Linked DNA regions of Homo sapiens: regions 2, 3, 4, 5 and 6 are each reported to be linked to region 1. Evidence: microRNA targets listed by miRTarBase, many of them from high-throughput screens and not tested one by one. Region 1 holds a microRNA gene; each other region holds the end of a gene's coding sequence.
What was found. The annotated mature microRNA hsa-miR-5088-3p reads UCCCUUCUUCCUGGGCCCUCA and lies in region 1 at 2,489-2,509, opposite strand. An mRNA with a match to its seed (bases 2 to 7 or 8) in the 3' UTR can be bound and repressed. Matches are read on the target gene's strand: a 7mer-m8 pairs with bases 2 to 8, a 7mer-A1 pairs with bases 2 to 7 and ends in A, and an 8mer does both.

Region 1 (4,000 bases):
TGGCCTCCTGCCCTGGTCTGGGCCACCCTCATGTCGCAGCGGCACTCACCCCTCGCCCCCTGGTCTATTTCCCACACGGCCGCCAGAGGGCACCCAGGGGCACCCCAGTCAGCTCCCGGCCCTTGGAGGTTCTGGGGATCCTCAGACCCTCCCTAGCTGCTCTGAGAGGAAAAGCACGGGGTCCCATAAGCCTCCACAAAATCTGCACACGCCCTGTCACCCCTCACCTCCACTCCTCCTCCTGCTGCCGTTCTAGACCCTCCTTCCACACGGGCCTCCCTGCTGTTCCACACGCAGCAAGGGCACACCTGCCCTGGCTGCCCCTCCGTATGCTTCATCCACCTCTCCGTCACCTCACCTCTCCCGGGGAGGCCTGCTGGGGCCTAAGGACCTGGGCTATTGCGCCGCTACGGATTTCCTGTTCCTACGACCTCCCCCACATCGCACCATCTCCCTCCAGGGTCTGTCACACCTGGCTTGGGCTGTGGCTTTCTAACACCTTGCAGCTAAGCCCCCACAGTAAGTCCCGTCTGTGGGAAAAATTGAGCGTGGTTTTCGTCTTCTACCTGGACCCCAGCCCACGCGAGCTGCACCCGTCCCGCTGGGGCCTCACCAGCCACTTGTCCCGGGCATAGAGCACGGTGTTGAGCATGGACTCGTAGAAGAGGCAGTAGCCCATCCACTCGCTGATGATGATGTCCACCTTCTCCACTGGGAGCTCCACCTCCTCCACCTTCCCCTTGATGATGGTCACCACTGCGGGCGGACAAGGGTGGCCACGTCAGCCCCCGGGAGGCCTGCCCCTCACCTCACCTCCCCCGGGGGCTAGAGCCTGGGGACCCCACTTCAGTTCAGAGAACTGCGTGAGCAGAAGCCATGAACCCTTCTAACAGTTTTAAAATTCATACATCGTTCTGGACATTTTTGAGGCAGGAGCAGAAATTTTATGTGGACTGGGTATCAGGTGATGTTACTTTTTTTTTTTTTTTTTTTTTGAGACGGAGTCTTGCTCTGTCACCCAGGCTGGAGTGCAGTGGCGTGATCTCAGCTCACTGCAACCTCCGCCTCCCGGGTTCACGCCATTCTCCTGCTTCAGCCTCCCGAGTAGCTGGGACTACAGGTGCCAGCCACCAAGTCCGGCTAATTTTTTGTATTTTTAGTAGAGACAGGGTGTCACCGTGTTGGCCAGGATGGTCTTGATCTCCTGACCTCACGATCCGCCCGCCTCGGCCTCCCAAAATGTTGGGATTACAGGCGTGAGCCACTGTGCCCGGCCGCGATTTTGTTTTTAACTGGGTGGTTTTGATATAATAAGTAACAGCATGATCACATTCTCAAAACAGCCTTTATCTATTAGATAAGACACAAGCAGACGCATTTACCGGGAAAATTACATCACAGTGGGAATTTGCTTCAAATGGACTCGTGCGTTCATTATAATAATCTCTTTTTAAAAATCACTTCAGGATGGCACGGTGGCTCACGCCTGTAATCTCAGCACTTTGGGAGGCCAAAGTGGATGGATCACCTGAGGTCAGGAGTTCAAGACCAGCCTGGCCAACATGGTGAAACCATGTCTCAACTAAAAAAATACAAAAAAAAAAAAAGTTCACACCTGTAATCCCAGCACTTTGGGAGGCCAAGGCAAGCAGGCAGATCACGAGGTCAGGAGATCGAGACCATCCTGGCTAACACGGTGAAACCCCGTCTCTACTAAAAAAACAAAAAAATTAGCCGGGCGTGGTGGCTGGCGCCTGTAATCCCAGCTAATTGGGAGGCTGAGGCAGGAGAATCACTTGAACCCAGGAGGCGGAGCTTGCAGTGAGCTGAGATCGTGCCACTGCCCTCCAGCCTGGCAAAAGAGTGAGACTCCATCTCAAAAAAAAAAAAAAAAAAAAAAAAATGCTGGGGATGTACCTATGATGGTGGTCATGCAAAAGAGCGGATGCCGCAACATCCTGGAAAGTGTTAAACGACATGACAAGCAGGTGTAAGAAGCCAAGGGCAAGAGGCTGGTATGAAATGCTACTGGCGTGAAAATTATGCACGAGAATGTAAATGCATTTACGTATGTATGTGTTTGTAGGTCCAGACTTCTCTGGAAGTTAGTGTTGGTTAAACTCAGAGGAGGGCAGCTGGGAAACAGGGAAGGCTTCTCACTGTGGGCCTTCCGTGGCCAACCACGTGACTCTATTACTCATTCAAGAAACTAGAGAGTGCTTCTTGCCCTAATTTTAAGACTGCGGTGCTAAGCCTGTGATTTTGACACTCAGATTCTCAGGCGGCCGGCAGCCCAAAAGACCATGGGTTGGGAGCTGCTGAATCTGTGGTCATCTGTAGACCCCACTGCTCTTCAGAGGGCCCTGGGGAAGCAGGGCATCACCCCCTCCACTCCCACAAACCCATCCTCTTTCTGGGCTCACCGTGGTCTAACTTGTTGGCTTTGACGATCTTCACCGCATAATCAGAGATACTGGAACACTCGATCTGAGGGCCCAGGAAGAAGGGAGGGTGAGACCCATCCCCTGCCCCCATCACCTCCATCCAATCCCTGAGCCCTGATGGGCTCCCCTCCATCCCTCAGGCCCGGCCCCGCCTGGCCACCCTGGAGACTCACCCCGATGACCTTGCGGGCCCCGGCCTTGGCAGCAAACATGCAGAGGATGCCGGTGCCCGAGCCGACGTCCAGCACCACCTTGTCCTTGAAGAGGTGCCGGTTATGAAACATGGAGTTGCGGTAAGTGAGGGTGCGCACCTCGTCCTTCAGCATCTCCTAGGGCAAGAATGGCACAGAGACGCCGTGAGGGGCCCCATATCCCCAGCTGGAGAACAGCGTGTCCTGAGAGCTCGGAGGGCCAGAGCTCGGCCCTCTCGCTTTCTTCCATGCACCTCAGTTTCCCTTTTATATTTATTCATTTATTTATTTTTATTTTATTTTATTTTTTGAGATGGAATCTCACTCTGTTGCCCAGGCTGGAGTGCAATGGTGCAATCTCAGCTCACTGCAACCTCCGCCTCCTGGGTTCAAGTGATTCTCCTGCCTCAGCCTCCCAAGTAGCTGAGATTATAGGTGCACACCACCATGCCCGGCTAATTTTTGTATTTTTCATACAGATGGGGTTTCACCATATTGCCCAGGTTGGTCTTCAACTCCTGACCTCAGGTGATCCACCCACCTCAGCCCCCTAAAGTGCTGGGATTACAGGCGTGAACCACTGCGCCCAGCCAGTTTCCCTTTTTAAAAAATCAGATTAGATGGTCTAAACTCCAATCTTGGCCGGACTTCACCACTGCTACCTAAGAACCAGTGAACCCTGGCTTTTAAAAGTCCTCAGGCTGGGAGCGGTGGCTCACGCCTGTAATCCCAGCACCTCAGGAGGCCAAAGCCGGAGGATCACTTGATCCCAAGAGTTTGAGACCAGCCTGGGCAACAAGGCAAGATTATCTCTACAGAAAAATAAGAACATCAGCTGGGCGTGGTGGCGCGCGCCTGTGGTCCCAGCTACTCCGAAAGTGGAAGTGGGGGGATCACCTGAGCCGGGGAGGTCGAGGCTGCAGTGAGCCATGATTGCACCAATGCACTCTAGCCTGGGCGACAGAGCGAGACCGTCTCTAAAAATAAAAAATGGCAATTTTATGCATATTTTGCCACAATTTTATGAAAAAGGCCTCAGGGGGAAAAGAAAATTCCTTAGAATGCCACCCCAGCTTCGTTCTGGGATTTCAGTGTCTTCAGTCAGATCTGAAGTGTGCAGAAGCTGTTAGGGCGGGAGCAGCCGGGGCGCAGTCCCACCGCCGGTCACTAGAGGGCGGCAGAGACCAGTGGGCCCTGCCCGACCTCTGGCTAAGGCCCCAGGCACGCATGCGCTCTCCCACCCCAGCCTTCGGCGCGAGGCCCCTGCAGAGATTCAGGCTAACCTCGGTCTCCAAGGCAACGGCTTGGCGAGGCGACCCTAGGAAGTGCGCAGCAGAGGGGCAGGGGGGCGGCCTGCGGCCAGGG
Region 2 (4,130 bases), not on the chromosome of region 1:
GGTGGTTGTGCTCAATGCCATAAGATTACTTTTTTTTTCAGAAGGGGAGAGTATTGATTCGGGAGATAAATTTGTGGCGTTTAAAATCTGTTTCTCTCTAATCTAAAATGCCAAATAGTTTGATATGTAGATTTGTATCACTTCACTTAAGTTCTGTAGTTTATCTGACCATTTTCAATTTGAAAAACTAAGTGACTTATAAAAATCACTTCTGTGTTTCTTCCCATTTAGATGTTTCTTAGTGGATTATCGTAAATCACTGAACCTTTTTTTCAAGAAGGACAAGAATTTTGGAGTCTGCTATTAATGGACCATATTTATTACAGTTTTTAAATTGTACAATCTCTGTATTATAGCTATTTGTCTAACATTACCCCACATGTAATAAATAAAACAATATGAGCATAATTGCCCCATAAAGAACTCATGTCCTGAATTAATAAGTCTTTTCATTGCCAGTCACTTGTGCAATTTATAGAGACTATCAACTTTTTTGCACCATATATGAAGGAAACAAAGTGCAAAAAGTTTGCTCTCTCCCTTAAGAAAATTGAGTGCTTATAGCCTATGTCTTCCATATAAAAAAGTAAGAATATCAGTCTTTTTAATGTTATTCTAAGAAAATATTGGTATAATTTTAGTGGCAGAGTTTATCAGTCAGAAAAATAAAAGCCACTCTAGATATGCCAAGCAGAGAAGAATTTCATGCCAGGGATTGGCTATAAAGTTCTTCAAAAGACTGAAAGAACAGAAGGGAGGTAGAAGCGGGAGCCAGACAAAAGGGAAGAAGGGCTTTGCAGCCACAGATCAGGAGCTGCTCCGGCCCTTGGCTTGGAGCCCCGAGCCCACATTTGCCACTGAGCTGTCGGAGCTGCTGTGGCCACTGCAGTGCTCAGAAGCCCAGGAGTCTCTTTGCCAGTGCTGCTGACAACTTAACACTGCTGCTGTCCAGGCTGCCAAGCCCACCACCAAAAGAAGAAACATCTCTGCACTTTCTCCAAGCTTCTAATTTTTACCCCAGTGCCAAGAAATAGCAGAACCAAACTGGAAGCCACCTGGCTAGAAGTCTGGGAGGAGTGGTCCGCAACTGTAAACCCCCAGCACTGCAGCCGGTGGCCTAGAAAGGCGTGTGGAGCAAAAAGCCAGCACACAGAAGTGTTAATTACACCTGTTATTCTGACTTTGTAGTCCTTTGCCATACTTGCGAATAACTTAAGTGAATTTGATGTTACTGGAATTAGTTTGCCTTTATTTTGCCAGTTGAAAAAAAAGATTTCTAAAAAACTCAATGAAACATGATTCAACACAGGTTTCGAAGTAAAATAAGTCTGGATTTGAGTTCTAGTTCTATCACTTACTAGCTGTGTGGGCCTGAACAAGTTATTTAATTTCCCACAGAGAGAAACAGGGTGGTGTTGCTGTCACCCAGGCTGGAGTGTAGTGTTATGACCATAGCTCACTGCAACCCTGAACCCCTGTGCTTAAGGGATCCTCCTGCTTCAGCCTCCCGAGTATCTGGGACTACAGGCACACACCACCATGCTTTCCTGATTTTTAAATTTTTTTGTAGAGATAAGGTCTTGCTTTCTTGCCCAGGCTGGTCTTGAACTCTAGGCCTCAAGTAATCCTCCCACCTTGGCCTCCCTAAGTACTGGTATGACAGGCATGAGCCACCTTGCTTGGCCCAATTTCTCACCATCTTAATTCCCTCAAACTGAGGACAGTAAAAGTATCTACCTTCTAGTGGCAGGAGGTTTGAATCAGTTCGTATAAAGCATCTAGGCCAGGCACGGTGGCTCACGCCTATAATCCCAGCACTTTGGGAGACCATGGTGGGCAGATCATGAGGTCTGGAGATCGAGACCATCCTGGCTAACATGGTGAAACCCCATCTCTCCTAAAAATACAAAAAATTAGCCAGGCGTGGTGATGCATGCCTGTAATCCCAGCTTCTCAGGGGGCTGAGGTGGGAGAATCACTTGAACCCAGCAGGCAGAGGTTGCAGTGAGCAGAGATCATGCCACTGCACTCCAGCCTGGATGATAGGGCAAGGGCAAGACTCTGTCTAAAAAGAAAAAAAAAAAAAAAATGCGTCTAGCACAGTACCCGAGTGCCAAAAATGCTAGTTATTACGAGTATATAGGCTTCTATTTAGCTAATTGCAAGTTTTTAAATTGCAGTTTCAATAATAAAATTATTTTACACTTTGAAGGTGTTATACTGTTTCTCCACAATAATTAGTTTAAAAATGCAAGTTACTTAATTTGCAATGATATTTTAATGACGTTTGACCTATATTTAAAACATTGTCCAATAACTATTTACATAGGTCTTAGACAGACTTCTAAAGATCATATCATAACAAATAAGAATAGTTGGGCTGGCCGGGCATGGTGGCTCACTCCTGTAATCCCAGCACTTTGGGAGGCTGAGGCAGGTGGATCACCTGAGGTCAGGAGTTCGAGACCAGCCTGGCCAACATGGTGAAACCCCGTCTCTACTAAAAGTACAAAAAATAGCCAGGTGTGGTGGCAGGCACCTGTAATCCCAGCTACTTGGGAGGCTGAGGCAGGAGAATTGCTTGAACCCAGGAGGTGGATGCTTCAGTGAGCCAAGATCAAGCCACTATACTCCAGCCTGGGCAACAGAGTGAGACTCCATCTCAAAAAAAAAAAAAAAATAGCTGGGCTGGGCATGGTGGCTCATACCTGTAATCCCAGCACTTAGGGAGGACTAAGTTAGCGGATTGCTTAAGCCCAGGAGTTCGAGACCAGACTGGGCAACATAGTGAAACCTTGTCTCTACTAAAAACTAAAAAACAACAACAAAAAAATTGACCTGGCATGGTGGTGTGCGCCTGAAGTCACAGCTACTTGGGAGGCTGAAGTGGGAGGATGGCTTGAGGCCAGGAGGCAGAGATTGCAGTGAGCCAAGATTGTGCCACTGCACTCCAGCCTGGGTGACAGTGAACCCCTGTCTCAAAATAAAAATAATAATACAAATAAATACACCATAGAAAAAAATACAAAGGGCTTTTTTCCTCCCCACTAGAGATGGAGTCTTGCTCTATCACCCAGGCTGGAGTGCAGTGAAGCAATCATAGCTCACTGCAGCCTCAAACTCCTGAGCTCAAGCAATCCTGTTGCCTCAGCCTCTTGAGTAGCTGGGACCATACAGGTGCATGTCACCACACTCAGCCAATTTTTTTTTTTTTTTTTGTAGAGCTAGGACCTTGGTATGCTGCCCAGGCTGGTCTCAAACTCCTGGCCTCAGGCAATCTTCCTGAGTTGCTGGGATTAGAGATGTGAACCACTGTGCATGGCCCAAAGGGCTTTGGAACATGTGAAAAGAAAACCTCCCTAATGCTAATAAAAATGCAAATTAAAACTACCTTAGATTCCATTTTTTACTTGCCAGAATGGCAAAAATTAAAGTTTGATAACTGGACAAAATTATCAGAAAATTTATTCTCATATCTTGGTGGAAATTTAAATTTGTATAAGTTCTTTGGAGGACAATTTGACAATCTCTTCAAAATTACAAATATGCATACCTTTTGACCCAACTATTCCACTTCTAGGAACACACACTTGTAAGTTACTCACTATGCCATTATTCTCGGAGGAAACGTTTGGAAACAACCAAAGTACTCATCAGGAGGGGAATGTAGGCCTGGCATGATGGCTCACACCTGTTACCATAGGACTTTGGGAGGCCAAGGTGGAAGGATCACTTGAGGCCAGGAGTTTGAAACCAGTCTGGACAACATAGTAAGACCTCATCTCTACAAAGAAAAAAATTTTTTTAAAGAAGGGAATGGGCTAACTGCATGTGGCCATATACAGAATGAGGAAGTACTCAGTCCTTCTATACAAGTTTCTGGACAGACTGGCATCCTTTATTAGCCCCCCTAAAATGTGTTGGAAGACAAAATTTAGATAATGGAAGTACCTGCCTTGATTGATTGACTTAATGTAGACGGAGTCTCACTATGTTGCCCAAGCTGGCCTTGAACTCCTGAGCTCAAGCAGTCCTCCCACCTCAGCCTCCTGAGTAGCTGTCTATGATTTTATTTTTATTTATTTATTTACATATCATTTATTTATTTATTTTTGAGACAGAATCTCCTT
Region 3 (4,130 bases), not on the chromosome of region 1:
CTATAAATTAACACCCAAACTTGGCTTGACCTCCACGGCTCTCCATTGCTTCCCCATATAAAGCTGAGAAATGCCCAAGAGCTCTCTGATCCTTTATTTCCCTTCTCTGGGCCAATGGGTGCCCCATTTCACATGTCTTCTCTCTCCAAAGACAAGTCTTCATACCATTTTTTTTTTCTTATTTTAATTTTGAGACGGAGTTTCACTCTTGTTGCCCAGGCTGGAGTGCAATGGCACGATCTTGGCTCACTGTAACCTCTGTCTCCCGGGTTTAAGCGATTCTCCTGCCTCAGCCTCCCGAGTAGCTGGGATTACAGGCGCCTGCCACAACGCCCGGCTAATTTTTTGTATTTTTAGTAGAGGCGGGGTTTCGCCCTATTGGCCAGGCTGGTCTCGAACGCCTGACCTCAGGTGATCCACCCGCTTCGGCCTCCCAAAGTGCTGGGATTACAGGCGTGAGCCACCGTGCCCGCCCCATACCACTCTTTCTTGAACACTCTGACTGTCCCTGGCCCCTACTCAGGGACTAAACCTTACCCTTTCAAGGCTTGCTTTTATGCCCTGGCCATCCACAACTTCTCTAGCCTTGAAGCCTTCCCCTCAAGGAACTTGGTCTAGTGGGAGTCTGACTCTCACGGGTCATGAATGCGGCTAAAACAAAGTGCCCCACGAGCTCAAGAGAGGTACCATGAACTGACAGGGGCAGACTGACGCTCCCCAAACGGTCTGACGGTGACCCTTGTGGAGCTGTCTCGCAATCAGAAAAAGGAAGGGAGGCAAATTATTCCGAAATCAGACTATGAGCAAACCTGGAGGCTGGAAAGAAAGCAATCAGGGTGGCGGAGCCTTTGGGGGTGCAATGAAGGCCCGATTCATCAGGGGCTTTGAATTAAGTTTAACCCTGCTAGCGATCTAATAAAGGTTGGCATGATTTGACTTAATTTTTATTTTGTTTTATAAAAGTTGACTCTTCGTTTTTCATTGTCGCTACAGCACAAACTCCACAAAGAAGTAATTCCACCCGGTGACTTCCCCACTGGCACTAATATGGTGTCCTCCCTCTAAGGAGCCCGAGACACTTCCGCCCTTCTCAGAAGTGACTTCCGTCCAGCTCGGCATGGCGGCAGTCACTGCCGTCACTTAGTCGCCGATCAAGGCTTGGACTAAGGGCCCACGGTCACTCGAGTAGGACTTGGATCGGATGCTGAATAAAACTCACCGTGAAGCAAGTCCCACTGAACGAAAAGTTGGTCGTAGCATTTCTCAGGTAAAAGAATCGGCACGAGCAGCCGTTTAAGCGGTCCGTCCGCCTCGGCCGCCATATTGCAAAGCTAGCTTCCGCCAGTCTCTCCAGACCGCCATTGACTTTCGTTGCGCGTGCGCGCTGCGGACACTCCGCCTCCCGTTCTTTTCCCGCGGCGAAGCTGGCCCGCCCCGTGCCCCGCTCTTTCTGACGCTACCCACCCTCACTCTAGTGGCGTAAAATAAGTCTCAGTCAGGGACCACGTTTTGGACGCGCTGTTGGAATTGTAAAGCTTGCCGAAGCTGCACGCCTGCGCGGTTAGACCTCCCACGCCTTTGTTGACGCTTCCAGTTTGGAAGCCAGATTTACACCCCTGCCTTTCTCCGCTCCTCCTGCTGGGCGCCATCTTGTCTTCTCCTAGCACACTTTGTATTGTTCGAAGTTGAGAGAGAAGGAGCCGGAGTCTCCGAGGTGGCGTTGGGTGGGGGCGCTACTAGCTCCCGTTCTCTCAGCGTCTCTAGAGGGAAGGGCGCCGGTGGGAGCAGGAGAGTCTGCACCGGGCAGGCCTCCTTAGGTGCCGGGTTGCGCGCAGGGCCCTGTGCTTGTCTCGCCTCCGGTTGGCTCAGGCCTCGGAGCATGAGTGCGCCGGCAACTGCTGGGCCCGGGACAGTGAAGCAGAGGAGGAGGTGGGGGAGGCGAGCCCAGGTCGGGGAAGGGCAGCACCTGAATCACCCTTGGGGCCCAGACCCCCAAGAGTCTCCGGGGAGCCGAGGCCTGGCGAGGCAGTCCCGGGATTCGCCCCCTCCCCGCTGGCCCGAGGGCGCACCACGTGCTGGGCAGAGACTTCGGCGAGGCCGAGTGGACCCTGCAGCGCTGCTTGGGAAAGGGCACCTTGGACTACCTGGTGGGGGCGTTGTGCTTCGTTACCGACCGCCGGGACGCCAACCCACGGTGCCCACCCGTGCGTCATTCCGCTGTGGATCAGCCCTTTGGCGGCCCCCCTCCAAAGTCTACAAGGTCACACGGATGTCTGCAGGCAGAGGTGGGGCTGCTGGGGCCCTGCCAGGTGAGGGCTGCCCTTGTGGGGCAGTCTCTGGGCCTTGGAGGCCGGAAGCCTCCTGGGGCTCCTACGGCTGGGGGGTGCTGCTCATCCTGGCTCCCAGGGATTGCGCCGTAGCCAGCTGTAATGGGTGGGACTGGCGCTCACTGCTGGTGCAGGCTGTGGCCATCTGGGAGGTCCTTTCTGGAATCTGGACCTTGGCTGTCCTGAGAGTGACACTCCTCATCTCAAGTACTGGGGGCATGAAGTTAGGCTTGGCAGGTGGCCCCGTGTGGGGGGCATGCTGTTCCCAGGAGCCCCCAGTGGAGGTCAGAGTACCCACTGCTCCTTCTTGATTCAACCCCTTGTAGGTGGGATAGGAGCATGCCAGGTGCTGCGAGGGTTTAATCGGGCTCTTCTGCTGGCCTTGAATATGGTGGACAGGACAGGACATTCTCATTGCTCAGGAGCCACTGGCGCTGCCTTTGGGAATGAAGTTCCACAGCCCCCCACTCATTGCTTTGGCTGTCTGCTGCATTTGAAACTGTACGAGGGTCAGGAAGAAGGCTGCGGGGATGAATGGCTCTACCGGCTTGCCACGGATGGGGAACTGGAGCAGCCAGTGGCCCCAAGAGGAGGAAGGAAGGGAGGCACGGCAGACCCAACACCAGCTGTGCCAGGCTTTGGGGGGTGAACCCATGAGGCATCGTCACACACTGACATTTTCATCCCTCCTCAGCAGCTGCTTCCGGCTCCCTGAGACCCAGCCATGGAAGGCATAGAAAGGCATGTGACAAGAAACTCATGGCTTTTAATCCTGGCAGGACAAGGAAAACCCCGTCAAAGATTTGCATAAATTTTGCTGCTCTCCTGCTGGGGGGGGGGGGGGGGCAGTTCGTCACATTTAATAAAATTCTCTCCCTCCCTTCTCCCGACTGCATTATCTCATATTTATTTATTTGAGACAGTCTGGCTCTGTCGCCCAGGCTGGAGTGCAGTGGCGCGATCTTGGCTTAGTGGCGCGATGACGGCTCACTGCAACCTCCACCTCCTGGGTTCAAGCAGTTCTGCCTCAGCCTCCCAAGTAGCTGGGATTACAGGCCAGCTGGGATTACGCCGCCACACCTGGCTAATTGTATTTTTAGTAGAGACAGGGTTTCACCATGTTGGCCAGGCTGGTCTCAAACTCCTGACCTCCAGTGATCCACCTGCCTCAGCCTCCCAAAGTGCTGGGATTACAGGCATGAGCCGTCATGCCCGGCTTTCTTTTTGTTCTTCAAGAAAGGGAAGGAAAATAACATTGTCTTTGAGCCAGTTGCGTGTCGAGGAAATAAGGGTACCCCCCCACCACACCCCAACCCCCTCAGTGCCCTGGGGTTTGAAGCAAATGCTCAGAGGGCCTGGTAGGCGGATGGGCGTCTCCGGATGATGCAGAAAGCAATAAGCACCAGGGCGAGGAGGCCAAGAAGGATCAGGCCGATGATGAGAGGCAGCAAGATGGACCGGTCACTGGGGCAGGAGAAACCTGGCGGAAGGATAGGGCAGGTAGGTATTTGCAGTGACGTGCTGGTTGGGATAAAGGTGGGAGGAGGGAATGGGGGGATGCTGGGGAGTAGGAGATTGGTGAGGAGCTCACCGCAGTGACTCAGCAGTGATAAAAGGGGGAAACTGGCAGAGTCTTGTAGAGGATGGAAAGAAAGCTGCCCTGTAGCCATGACAAGCTGGGAGAGCGAGATTTGGGGGGTTAAGAAGAGAGATGAGTGGCTTATGGGCCTGGGGAAGGGGTTTTCAGTGCAGTGGGAGGATTCTAGGAGGGAAGGAGTAGGTAGGTCTTACTTTGCCCAAAGA
Region 4 (4,000 bases), not on the chromosome of region 1:
ATCACGAGGTCAGGAGGTCGAGACCATCCTGGCTAACATGGTGAAGCCCCGTCTCTACTAAAAATACAAAGAATTAGCCGGGCGTGGTGGTGGGCACCTGTAGTCCCAGCTACTCGAGAGGCTGAGGCAGGAGAATGGCAGGAGAATGGCGTGAACCTGGGAGGTGGAGCTTGCAGTGAGCCGAGAACCCACCACTGCACTCCAGCCTGGGTGACAGAGCGAGACTCTGTCTCAAAAAAAAAAAAAAAAAAAAAATTGCAGTCAGTCGATAAGCAGTACCGTGGGGCTTGGTGGGGTTAAAGCCAGTGGATACACAAAAGTCTGTCAGTTTCATTTACCTGTCCCTTCCCCACCAATAATCGAGGGTTGGCTCTATTCAGAACTTCTCTGTCCCTTTCTTCATCTCCTGATTTTGCCTGCTGACTAAAATATGAATTGGGTAGTCATTTTCTCTCTTTTTCTCCTTTGGTTTCCTAGGTTTTTGGGTCCACTGCAATGACTCAAAGCTGAATGTATGCAGTGTCGAGGAAGTGTGCAAAACCCAGGCCTACATCCTTTTTTACACTCAAAGAACAGTGCAGGGCAATGCAAGAATCTCAGAAACCCATCTCCAAGCTCAGGTGCAGTCCAGCAACAATGATGAAGGCAGACCACAGACATTTTCCTGAATGGGAGGCATGTATCAAAGACTGGCTTTTGTGTATTGGTGTCCATACATCTTTCCTCTTATAGGAAATAAGGCTACTGCAGGAACAGATTACTAGGTTTGCCTTGCTGGGTCTAGAGTAGAAGGTGCCAGGTGATTCGTGTCCTGTCGTAAATTTTATAGTCTCTTTCTTTTGAATGAGTTTGGGAGTTCCCTCCTTTCCTAAAAACAAAAGAAGTAACTTCTATGAAGATCCTTTCATCAGTTGCTTCTGAATATAGAGGGATCTGGGTGGAGGAAAGCGGGGCGGGGGGGTAAATCAATCATATCCACACAGGAGAGCAGCCATGTTTTCTCTCCATGATGTGATTCCCCTGCTAATCAGGACCTCCTTGCAGCACCAGAAGAACCCTCCGGATGTGAGCAGTCCTGGACAGAGCACGTGAGGAGGGGCCCTGGGCTAGCAGTTTGCTGGATGGGATTGGCTCCAAGATGGGAGATGAAGTCTAAAGGGTTTATTCCCACAAAGGAAGTAACCTTCAAGGGTTTAAAACAAACTTCCTTTTTTGGGGATAGCAGCTGAAGAGTGGAGTGAGATGCATGGAACAAATTTCCCCATGCAAAGTGGGATGGTTTTCATATGTCATACCCTCCCTACTTGCTGCTGTCATATAATCATTCCATACTTCTGAGACTGGCATGAATACCCCTTCATTCTAAAGAAGGGGCAGGTCATATAAAGAAGCAATAGACTAGCACATGTTCCATGCTGAGCCAAAGGACACTCCTGGCTATCTCAGTTCTGTAGCAGATCCCTGGTTCAGGTCTAGGGCAAGCACATGGTTTGGTTTAAATTGATTCTTAGGTTTTCTCAGAACTCAATTGAGGGTGGGCAGAGATAGCTGATGCTCCAGGGCTTATTGAAGGCCTGTCACCCGTTCTCACTTCAGTGCGGCATGCAGCTTCTTAGCCTGCAGCTTCTTTCTTGCTCCTGGAGAGCTAGAACATTCATGTTCACAGGGTTTGGGAGCTTTTGGTTCTCTAGGGTATGTTAACTGCTTAGGAGTCCACCTCGTACATATCTGAAGAGTTGATTACCAATGGCCTTGACCTGTTTCCTCCCAAATCTGATAATCCCTACTGTTGCTTTACCCCCCATACTCAGTCCATCAGAGAAAAAAACAAGAGTGCCCCGTCCTTTCCCCCAGTGCTAGTAAAATACATCTTCCTTTTTAAATTGGGTCAGTTTCTAAACAGAATGAAATTGCCCAGATAAAAACCCTTGTCCCCATCAGGCACCACTTCATTCTTAGTTCTTCACTTAGATTTGCTGGTGAAAGTGAATGCAAACCCTAACTTTTGTTGCTGTGGTCACTGCAGTGAGCCTCACTCAACCTGTCACTATGAATGCTCATCTTTTGACTGAGTATATCATATTAATGTTTGAATTCAGGTAGAAGTACAGTTGTCACTTGAAGGGAGTAGATGTGGAAGGGCGTTCGGGGAGGAGTGGGAAGTGGGGAAAGCCAGGCTAAAGAATGAGGGTTATAGCTTTAGCAATGTTGATGAGCCACATTTCCCACACAGATCTGTAGCATTTGCTGTTGACCTCTTTTGAGATGAACTCTCCCATAGGCCCTGCCAGGCAGCACTGAGACATGGAGGAAATTCAGACAAAAAATGGCTCACCCTGATAGGGAAGGAGTGACTATATTTTAAATTAAACTTGCTTTTTCCAACACTGTGAGGTTTCTGTAATATTTAGCTTTTATTTGGAAGCGATAGCGTATGGCATTTTTTATGCTGTTTGGTTTATATTGTCTACTGCAGGCTTCTTTGTATAAGCTTTGCCTGGGCTCACCCTCTCCTGGACACTGTTTTAAAGTGTCACCGCTGTCCATGCTGCCAGAGGCTCTGATGTGAAGCTGTACTCTCAAGATCCACGTTTTTAAGTCGGCATGATTAGTAATGACTTTTTGTGGCAATAGAAAAGCCCATTAACTCAAAAAAACCAAGGAGAGTAAAAAGGAAAGGAAACTATGAATCGTGCCTCATCTTTCATTGAATCCTATATTTATTATTCTAGAAAAAAAGAACTTACAAGATAGAGAAGAACTAATAGAGCATCTACTTTACCCCTCAGGCTGTCCAGTGGGGATAATTATTAATAAACATTTAATGGAAAATTCAAAGATCTTCCAATTTAATTTTTAAAAATAGTTTTATACCAAATATTATAAGGATTTATTAAGCAGATTAAGGACTTTGTGAAATAAGTGCTTAACTTAGCTGAGCACGCATATATCAAAGTAATAAAAGAAACTAACATCAGAGTCTCCACTGAGCTACACATTTGTGAAAGGTGCCCACTGCAGTTACAGACACCTCAGGTACCCAGAGGCGGCAGCACTGGACACTTAGGACGTTAGTATTTAAGGAGATTTTTATTAAAGAAGAGTTCCCTGCTGCATAAGCCAATGGCTATTGTGAGGGAAATGTCCCTTTGCCTTTAATTTATTTACGTACTGGGTATAGATGAATGTCTCAGTTGCATCTGAAATTGAATCATTCTAAAGAGAAGAAAATAAGAACCAGGTAAAAACTGACTAGATGCTGCCAAATCAAACCCAAGGTCTCCTAACCGAACCTTAATGGGCCTGCTTCTCTCCCAGGGCAAGTAGTTAAGAGTCTCATTCCAGGAACCCTTTGTAGTTAGTTGGCTGGCATGTTTACTTGCTGCTGTAGCCAGCCAAGATGAGTGCACCTAGGCCCTCAAAAAGGATTTTTTTTTACCTCAATCTAGCCTGACCCTCATATCTGTGGTTGCCTCTGAGACGAACATCCATGCTAGTATAAAAATAGTTAGGAATGCCCTTGGCAGAACTGAAGCTCTTATTAAATGGTGGACAGAGCTCTTGCCAGCTTTGATCCAGCCCCTCAGTCTCGGAGTTATGGGGCAGGGTTGGGGGGCAGTGCTACACTGTAAAGAATTTCCAGGCTGGGCGCGGTGGCTCATGCCTGTAATCCCAGCACTTTGGGAGGCCGAGGAGGGCGGATCACAAGGTCAAGAGATTGAGATCATCCTGGCCAACATGGTGAAACTCCGTCTCTACTAAAAATACAAAAATTAGCTGGGCATGGTGGCACGTGCCTGTAGTCCCAGCTACTTGGGAGGCTGAGGCAGGAGAATCGCTGGAACCCAGGAGGCAGAAGGGGCAGTGAGCCGAGATCGTGCCACTGCACTCCAGCCTGGCGACAGAGCGAGACTCTGTCTTAAAAAAAAAACAAAAACAAAAACAAAAAAAAAAAAAGAATTTCCAGATGTCTCTTAAAATGTCATGAATAAAATTGGAA
Region 5 (4,130 bases), not on the chromosome of region 1:
TGTCTCTTGTTAGGTAGAGAAATCAGCAGTCAGATCTTAAGACCATTTGGTAGGTGCATCAGGAATTGACACGCAGGCCAGTTTTCCAGTCCTACATGTATTCTTTTCTCTGTATCCTGCCTCTCTTGCTCTTGGCTTCCTGCCTTCTCTCCTACTCATTTTTAGAACAGTCTAGATGCAGGCAGCTAGAAGAGTTATTTCCTCCAAGCTGTCTAGGAAAAGGGACAATTAAAGAGAGATTCTGCACTTATTATGATATAAAAAAAGAAAAACAATGAGAGAACATAGTACTCTTTTACCTGTGACGTTAAATGGGAGTCACACAGGTTTAGCTATCTGTTCTAGGAGTGGATGAACAGACTATTCTCCCATGTCACTTCTTTCCTCCTGGACACCTTCAGGGAGACAGCTGGGTGAAGAATCATACTTCTGACCTCTGTCAAACAGGGTCAGATGCCGCAGAGGTTCTGAGATGATAAAGGAAGTGACAGAGGGAACCTGAGGTACCACATTTCTGATTTGTCATGAAAGTCTTACCTTGCTTAAGATGACTTTTTTAATGTTCCTTTCAGGGAAAATGCCAAGTGGAATAAAAACCAACATCAAGTCGGCTTCCATGCATCCCTACCAGCGGTGAGTGTGGCTGGCAACCTCGACTCCCTGGTGCTCTTTGCAGAGTTGGGCAGTGAAATTACCTTTTGCTCAAGGCTCACCTAGATGGGTACAATAAAAAGAACATGGGCTTTCAGCAGCAGACAAATCCCACTTCCACCACTGACTAGCTGTGTGACCTTGGACAAGTGACCTAATTTTTCTGAGCCTGTTTCTCATTTGTAAATGGTGATAATACCTACCTCATAGGGTTGTTGTGAGGATTAAAATGAGGAAATGAATGTAAAGCACTTAGTACAGTATATGAAATAATGGGTATTCAATAAATGATAGTTTCTACAGATCCTTCTCCCCACCACCCTCCACAGTCCTTGATCCAGAACTTACCCTAATCTGATACTGCCTCACGTCAATGGTGAGCTGATGGACACAAGATCAAATAAGGCTATGCTTATTTTGTGCTGCCAGAAACTGTAGCAACCTCTGTGTTCTTAGAGGCACACTGTTTTTGCAGGCCCTCCTGCCTGGGTTTCATTCTGGCTATCCCTCTAAGGCGCAAGGTGAAGAAGCTTCTGGGCCAGGAAGGAAAAAAAAATGCCCACCTGCAGCTCTGGTGAAGCTTGGGCCTGCTCTCCTTTCCATCCTCTAAGGAGCCAACTTGGCTTTTACCTGTCAAATAGTCATAAAGTCCCCTATCCTTTACCCCACCTTATACACACGAGGCTTTCTCAGGAAGTGGCTCTGCCAGGCAGGACTATGTGGGAAAGGGTTTTTCCTTAGCACACGAAAAAGCCCCTTCCCCTGGATTCATGTTTCTTATTTTGGAGGGAGAAGGGAATTGCACTTCACACTGCCATCAGGGTTTAGTTGACCTCATAATGGTGCCCACTTTCTCGACTTTGGCCAGGATTTCCTTCAAAGAAAACGACTTTCCTTCATTTCCCTAAGCCTGTGGCCCAAATGGTGGACCAGAATGATGGTGGGAGGGGGCAACCCCCAGTAGCTTTGCCTGCTTTTATAAAGTTGAACAAATTGAATTTAGACATTCAGGCTAACCTGCCTTTCTTAGTACTCCTTTGTTGGCATGGGCAGGGGTTGAGTCAGCAGAAGTGGACCAAAGGATTCCTCTGAATAAAGTTATTTAAATTGATGTTCACTGGCTCAGGGTTGTCTGACAGTAATTTATGAGAGCACTACATAGGGATCAGAGGGGCAGTTTCAAGAGTGCTGCAAGGCAGTTCTAATTTGTTCTCCATAAAAAAGTTTCCGTATCTTTAATTAGCTTTGATCTAAAAATCCTGAAACTTCCCTCCTGCTCATACCTTCCAGCTGCCTTTTTTCTGTTCTGTCACACACTGGTACTTTGGCATTTGTTCAGTGCCAAACAAAGTTCTGCCAGGCTGTGGCAGCAAAGGACTGGAAAAGTGGTCCCAGATGTCACATCTGTTACCATTCCATCAAGGTGAGGAATGGTATCCACAAAGCTCACTGACCACAATACATAGCAGTAGGGGAGTCTGGTCACCAGCTCTAAGGCAATGCCAGACCTTTCCCCCACTTAAACTGTTCCGGCTCATCAGCCCACTCAGGTGTTATCTTCTCACCTCTTCCCTTCCCACTGGAAATGTCAGTATTAACTGGCATATTGGGTAGAGTTTGAGCTGTGCTTCTCTGAAATTCCTGGAGCATCTTTTGGTGACTATTGTCCTTTACTCCACCAAAAGATTCCCTCCTATTGAATGGCACCAACCCCAAGTTTTTTTGTGTCCCAGGCAAATACTGACTTCATCCCCACCATACTATTAAAATGGATTCCTTGTCATCCAAGAATGGAAATATCCTCTTGCCCCAACAGGAACATATGCAGGATGTCACCTACATCTTGTTCCCCTAAGCAAACACTCCTTCCTCTAGAGGGACTCCTCTACATTCATCACCGTAGGAGCACATGCTGTCGTTTTTATCCCCCATCCTCAAATCATCTGGAGTACACAAATCTCAGTAGTGTCTCCCACTTTGGGGTCCATACAGCCTATTAAATGCCTCAATAGAGAGTATGTATCTCCCACCCCTAACATACTCATTCCCTCAGGAGGGAATACATATACAGTTTTCCTTTGAAGAAGGGGACATGACCTATTTACTGGCTCAGATTTAGGATTTGCAAAAGGTGACTATTGGCCTACTCTGGTAACATTCCTCTGTTTTTGACTGTCCTGTTTTGCTTGGAGATCGTGCTTTCTCCTATTCTTGGGTCCCCTGGAGAAAGAGATTAGGCCATTGTCTCCTAGGTTTGTGTCTAGGATGGAGAAAGAAGCAGCAGCTGTGAAACGTCAAGAGCTTACTACAGGACAGAGTTCATCCTGCTGAAGGCGGAAGCTTATCCAATCAATGTCAGCATAAGGCCCATTGCCTAGGATCTCTCCCTCTCCAGCTCTGCCCTGAGCCTGGGATTCAGTCATTGCTGAACCTCTCTTTTGCTCATTGTGCCAGTCACCCCATTCTGTTCCCCTTCTGGTGTTTATTGCTGCCCTACTTAGCTGGTGTACCTCATTCAACCCTGTCGTTTTTTGGGAAACAGCCAAGATAGATAGGTTGTAGCCAAGTGCTCCTTAGAACTCCATAATGGGTCCCAGCATTAGGATTGAGCTGGAGGGGGTGTAATTGCCCACCTCCTGTTGTGCTGCCACAGAGAAGAAGCTGAACTCTGCAGGAATGCCCCAGTGCAAGGCTGGTCCCTTTTCCCACCCCCCTCTCACCTCCCCCAGGCAGCTGGAAACAACCTCTCCCTTTGTCTGAGCTTCTTGTACAGAATAATCCTCCTTATGGACAATGTATTCTCTGTGCCCTGTGGACACAGGAGCTGTGTAAGCTGATCCCAGCACCAGGCAGGACGGAGGCTGAGTCCTTCCAAACGCCCACCCTGGGTCAGCTCCTGATTACTGTCCAGATGAACTACGAAGGAGTGTACATTCTCTTCCATCTGCCTTTCCTATCTGCTCCAGAATTAGGGGAATAGCCTACTGAAGTTTAGCATTGGGCCAGGAGTAGGAACAGGGGATGTGGTCCTTTTCTGTTCAGTCTTGAGGGTTCACAGTGCCTGCTTATGGAGGCTCGATGTGGCTCTTGCCTGGAAACCTCAAACACATGGGGACTAACCCTTGGAAAGGGCTTGCCACTGTGCAGATGGGGCTTTATGATTGGAACAGAAGGCAAACTCCAACGCATCTGATGGGACCATGGTGCCCCATCACTTCAGCATGTGTTTTGTCCCACAAGACAAAGTTCCTTTCTTCTTCCCTTTAACTTCTCTTTTTTTTTGAGCTCCATGTGTCACTGAGGCAGCTCTTGGGTTCCTGTTGTGGTCTCTCAATGAGTCACATGCCATTTGGACATGGCAGCTTCCCTAAGTACATCGTGGACAAGGCATCTCACTTCCCTAAGCCTCAGTTTTCTCACTTGGTGATCCCAGTGATCCTTTTTAGGTCTAAAGTCTGTGGCAATGATTTTCAAACCCA
Region 6 (4,130 bases), not on the chromosome of region 1:
GTGCTTGGAGCTGCGGGCCGCATGGGGCGAGCTGGACGCCGGGGAGGCCGAGGCGCGCGCGCGGGGACCCCAGCAACCGCCGCCCCCGGACCTGCGGAGTCTGGGCTTCGGCCGGAGGGTGCGGCCTCCCCAGGAGCGGGCCCTGCTGGTGGTATTCACCAGATCCCAGCGCAAGAACCTGTTCGCAGAGATGCGCGAGCAGCTGGGCTCGGCCGAGGCTGCGGGCCCGGGCGCGGGCGCCGAGGGGTCGTGGCCGCCGCCGTCGGGCGCCCCGGATGCCAGGCCTTGGCTGCCCTCGCCCGGCCGCCGGCGGCGGCGCACGGCCTTCGCCAGTCGCCATGGCAAGCGGCACGGCAAGAAGTCCAGGCTACGCTGCAGCAAGAAGCCCCTGCACGTGAACTTCAAGGAGCTGGGCTGGGACGACTGGATTATCGCGCCCCTGGAGTACGAGGCCTATCACTGCGAGGGTGTATGCGACTTCCCGCTGCGCTCGCACCTGGAGCCCACCAACCACGCCATCATCCAGACGCTGATGAACTCCATGGACCCCGGCTCCACCCCGCCCAGCTGCTGCGTGCCCACCAAATTGACTCCCATCAGCATTCTATACATCGACGCGGGCAATAATGTGGTCTACAAGCAGTACGAGGACATGGTGGTGGAGTCGTGCGGCTGCAGGTAGCGGTGCCTTTCCCGCCGCCTTGGCCCGGAACCAAGGTGGGCCAAGGTCCGCCTTGCAGGGGAGGCCTGGCTGCAGAGAGGCGGAGGAGGAAGCTGGCGCTGGGGGAGGCTGAGGGTGAGGGAACAGCCTGGATGTGAGAGCCGGTGGGAGAGAAGGGAGCGCAGCCTTCCCAGTAACTTCTACCTGCCAGCCCAGAGGGAAATATGGATTTTCACACCTTGCCTGGCCACCCTGGAAAAACAAGCCAAGGAGGATTTCTTTTGTTCTGTTTTCTCTCTCTCTCTCTCTCTCTCTCTCTCTCTCTCTCTCTCTCTCTCTATTACTGTGGCTTTGGATTTCCTTATGTGTCTTACAGGCTTTGATAGAAGGGGAGGGGAGGAGAGATGCATACCCGTTTCTCAACTGCTCCATGGATTGAAAAAATAACAGTTTAAAAAGGGAAACAATGTGGGAGGAAGAATCACCGTTGACGCATCTTGATTTGGTTGGTTTTTACATGTGTAAAGAAGGTGGGGTCTCTGGCCATGTCATAGCCCATGTCTTGTGCCCTCCCACACAGAAAGTGTTAGATAGGGAAATTGGCAAAAAGAATAGTTAAGTCAGGAATGGTCCTGCCTATAGAAGAGCTTTGAGAGAGGTGGGCCCACGGGTGCCCCTCTCACCCATTTGTGTACTCTGTGAGTTTACCAGCTCTGCCCTGGCCTCTTTCGGTACCAGGAACTGGCAACCTTCATCTCACTCCTGAGGGCCCAGGTCTCTGCCTTCATTGTTGCTTTTTCTGGTGGGGGCAAGGGGAGCTGGTATGGATGGAATGACAAGAATTAGTCCAAATGGAACCCCTTGAAGGATAATGAGAAACCACAAGGCCTGCCTCTGACTGGGGCTGACACGGAGGTGCATTAGCCCAGGCTGGAGGTAGCCCACCCAAATGCCCTTTCTGATTCTAATTGATTTCTTTCAACAGAATTTGCCAAAATTCAGACATGCACTTCTAAGGGGAAGGTGATTTTCCAGTTCAAAAAAATGGGCAGGAGTGGGGAACAAAACAATTAACGTAAGAGCTACAAAGGAGGGAAAAGGAACCAAGAAGTAGAAGGAGTCCCATCAGGAGGGAAGATGGTGGGCCTCAGGGAGGATGGGGATCAAGGGACAGGCCAGGAGCCAGGAGTGGGGAAGGGAGGGATGAAAGGGGACACAAGTCCCTGTCTCTGAAGTTTCTTTAAAATCTGAGTTCCCTCCCCTCTCTTTGACATTCCTGAAAGATTACCAGCCAGCAATAGCCCAGGGCTCCCCCAAAAGAATTGGTTCAGATTGTAATTATCAGTTAGGCAATGTTTTTAAAACTTAGTAATGAGAAACTGTGAAAAGAGCCAAGTGTTACATTGAGCTTGGGGTGGGAGATGGGGAACAGGCAGTGAGGAAGGAGACAGGGGTGGAATTCGTCTTCTGGGAGGAAGCTGGAGAGAGCACAGTGAAATTGAAATACCCATTCCCAGATAGTCAAAAACATGAACTTTCCCCCAGCCTGCACCAGTATTGTTTTCAAACATTGCCCATGAGTAGGCCCTTTGAAGAGTTAGCTTCCTCCTCATCTTTGACTATAAAATTGTTTAATCAATGGAATTTGTACCAGCCTTTTAAAAAGTTTTAGTTTTTCCTAAGTGATTTTGCTCTCTTCCAATCTAAACCTGTTGCTTGTTTGGTTCAGAGAACTACAAACTGTCAAAGAAAGGGTGGGGATGATAAGAAATGCTAATATAAAAATGCTAAGTGAAAAAAAGACTTGGCCAGGAGAAATAATTTAAAATGCACATTTGCTTTGGATGCACTGTTGTTCTGTTAAGGCTGTATATATTTGTTTATTTAAGGTGACTGAAAGTGCAAAGAGGAAATGGACAGCATGCAATTCATCCTAATGTACAAAACGTTATATGCACTCAAATGTTATAATTTCTAATATTTTTAAAGTTTATATTCGAGTTGTACAAAGTTAAGCATTAATCAGATATTTCATTTTTTCATAATGTTACCATTTTCTTAAATATTATTACAAAATTTTAAGTCTGTCTAATGGAGAGTTTTTTTTAAACTGTCTACCTCATATAATACAAGTATTTACAACGCTAAAGTTACCAGAGGTCAATGAATAATCAAAACATTTTTTACAGTACACCTTTCCTGGATGATATGCAATCGAATGCTATATTATTAAACGCATTTTTCTCCTTAATAACTCAGCCTGGTTTATATGGATCGATTTAGAAAAATCCTTTTCTCACAGAATTATTGTCAGAGGTAGTTTGTTCCAGTTTGGGACTCAATGCCTGAAAACAAACTGATGATTTTAAAAATCTATCATTTAGAGCATTACACTTTTTCTTCATAACTCTTCAATAACTCCTTTTTCATGACATTTTTATTACTAGAATAAAGCCAAATCCTTGTCACCTATTAGACCAGTGTTTATAAGCCTGTCCCTCATCCCAGCACTTCAGGAATCCAAATAGAAATTGGATTATTTCTTAGTTGCTTTAATGTTGAAAAAAACAAAGCAGTAATGTTGAGGTAAGAAAGTGGTTACCTAAGTCAACCAAGATGTCAGTGTAATTACTCATTACCTTTGTGGCATACTGGAAGCAGAAGATACAAATGTTTTTCTGTGCTTGCTGTGAATTGGGGAACTCATGTGTGAATGTGAGCACTCACTCTATCAGGCATGATGTTATTCTACACATGTAGAATCTCATTTAAAACCCTCAGAGGTAGATATTATTATAATCCCCATTTTACAAATGAGGAAACCAAGGTGCAGAGAATTTAAGTAACCTGCCTGTGGGCATCCAGCCAGGGAATTGTAGTTAGGATTTAAAATTAGTTCATTCAGACTCTAGAGCCTGAGGAGTTAACCACTGTACAATTCTGTCCCCAGATCATCTACCTGCTCTCTGATTGGTCCCTAAATATTGACGTGGGGAATGTGCAGTTAGCTACAATCCTTAGGGTTGGTCAGCTGGCGGAGGAGGAAATGGTACAGAGGCCAGCAGCATTGCCTGAAGTTTTGGAGTGTGTGAATTGTAACTGCTGGCATAAGGGCAGCTGAAAAATGGGTATGGGTTGCAAAACTCCTTGAATTCTTAGCTTTGGGCTTGGCCCAGTAAACTTACAGTTTAAGCCATTACTGGGCTTTGGCTCTCTACTCTTTGCTGGGACTGCCCTGGGTGTGATTTTTATGAGTTTTGGTTATCAACACAATAGTCAATTTACAAATAGGTCATGTTTCAAAAAACTGGTTGCAAGTGGACCCTTAGAACTAAGAAACACTTTCCCGTGGACACGGTGATTGTTTGAGTTTCCAGGTCATTTTGCAGAAACTTTATTTACCCAAATGGAGCTTTTTAACAAAGCAATTTTGACTTCTGAGTTTTGAGAGGATGTAATCACCTGGGAA

Region 2: the mRNA of KNTC1 is a reported target of hsa-miR-5088-3p. The part of its 3' UTR that is shown has no 7-base or 8-base seed match.
Region 3: miRTarBase lists CD68 as a target of hsa-miR-5088-3p. Seed matches in the 3' UTR shown: 8mer at 3,205-3,212.
Region 4: miRTarBase lists USP49 as a target of hsa-miR-5088-3p. Seed matches in the 3' UTR shown: 7mer-m8 at 1,367-1,373, 7mer-A1 at 2,121-2,127 and 7mer-m8 at 3,855-3,861.
Region 5: the mRNA of MED8 is a reported target of hsa-miR-5088-3p. Seed matches in the 3' UTR shown: 8mer at 1,442-1,449.
Region 6: the mRNA of GDF6 is a reported target of hsa-miR-5088-3p. Seed matches in the 3' UTR shown: 8mer at 833-840, 7mer-m8 at 1,046-1,052 and 7mer-A1 at 1,855-1,861.

Annotation. Positions count from the first base shown.
Region 1 is chr19:49,680,683-49,684,682 of GRCh38, reverse strand. It overlaps MIR5088 (microRNA 5088), which reads right to left and starts at 2,566; the gene lies at 2,488-2,566. PRMT1 (protein arginine methyltransferase 1) reads right to left here. Exons shown (of 11, transcript NM_001536.6): 4 at 2,618-2,773; 5 at 2,424-2,487; 6 at 614-756. RefSeq lists silencers at 13-72, 3,757-3,921, 3,768-4,000.
Region 2 is chr12:122,625,974-122,630,103 of GRCh38, forward strand. KNTC1 (kinetochore associated 1) reads left to right here. Exons shown (of 64, transcript NM_014708.6): 64 at 232-423. The coding sequence ends at 255. Among named protein-coding and RNA genes, the nearest start is that of MIR9902-1, 68 kb to the right of the region's middle.
Region 3 is chr17:7,581,055-7,585,184 of GRCh38, reverse strand. It overlaps CD68 (CD68 molecule), which reads right to left. Exons shown (of 6, transcript NM_001251.3): 5 at 4,119-4,130; 6 at 3,074-3,807. The coding sequence ends at 3,674. It overlaps MPDU1 (mannose-P-dolichol utilization defect 1), which reads right to left and starts at 1,333. Exons shown (of 7, transcript NM_004870.4): 1 at 1,220-1,333. The coding sequence starts at 1,322. MPDU1-AS1 (MPDU1 antisense RNA 1) reads left to right here and starts at 1,093. Exons shown (of 2, transcript NR_136402.2): 1 at 1,093-1,267; 2 at 3,022-3,211. RefSeq lists enhancers at 1-760, 995-1,524, 761-1,635, 1,635-1,684, 1,636-2,509.
Region 4 is chr6:41,793,201-41,797,200 of GRCh38, reverse strand. It overlaps USP49 (ubiquitin specific peptidase 49), which reads left to right. Exons shown (of 8, transcript NM_001286554.2): 8 at 478-4,000. The coding sequence ends at 668. Among named protein-coding and RNA genes, the nearest start is that of TOMM6, 7.5 kb to the right of the region's middle.
Region 5 is chr1:43,381,549-43,385,678 of GRCh38, reverse strand. MED8 (mediator complex subunit 8) reads left to right here. Exons shown (of 7, transcript NM_201542.5): 7 at 573-1,762. The coding sequence ends at 637. MED8-AS1 (MED8 antisense RNA 1) reads right to left here and starts at 630. Exons shown (of 2, transcript XR_001738027.1): 1 at 538-630; 2 at 1-395.
Region 6 is chr8:96,141,115-96,145,244 of GRCh38, reverse strand. It overlaps GDF6 (growth differentiation factor 6), which reads left to right. Exons shown (of 2, transcript NM_001001557.4): 2 at 1-2,912. The coding sequence ends at 682. Among named protein-coding and RNA genes, the nearest start is that of GDF6, 18 kb to the left of the region's middle.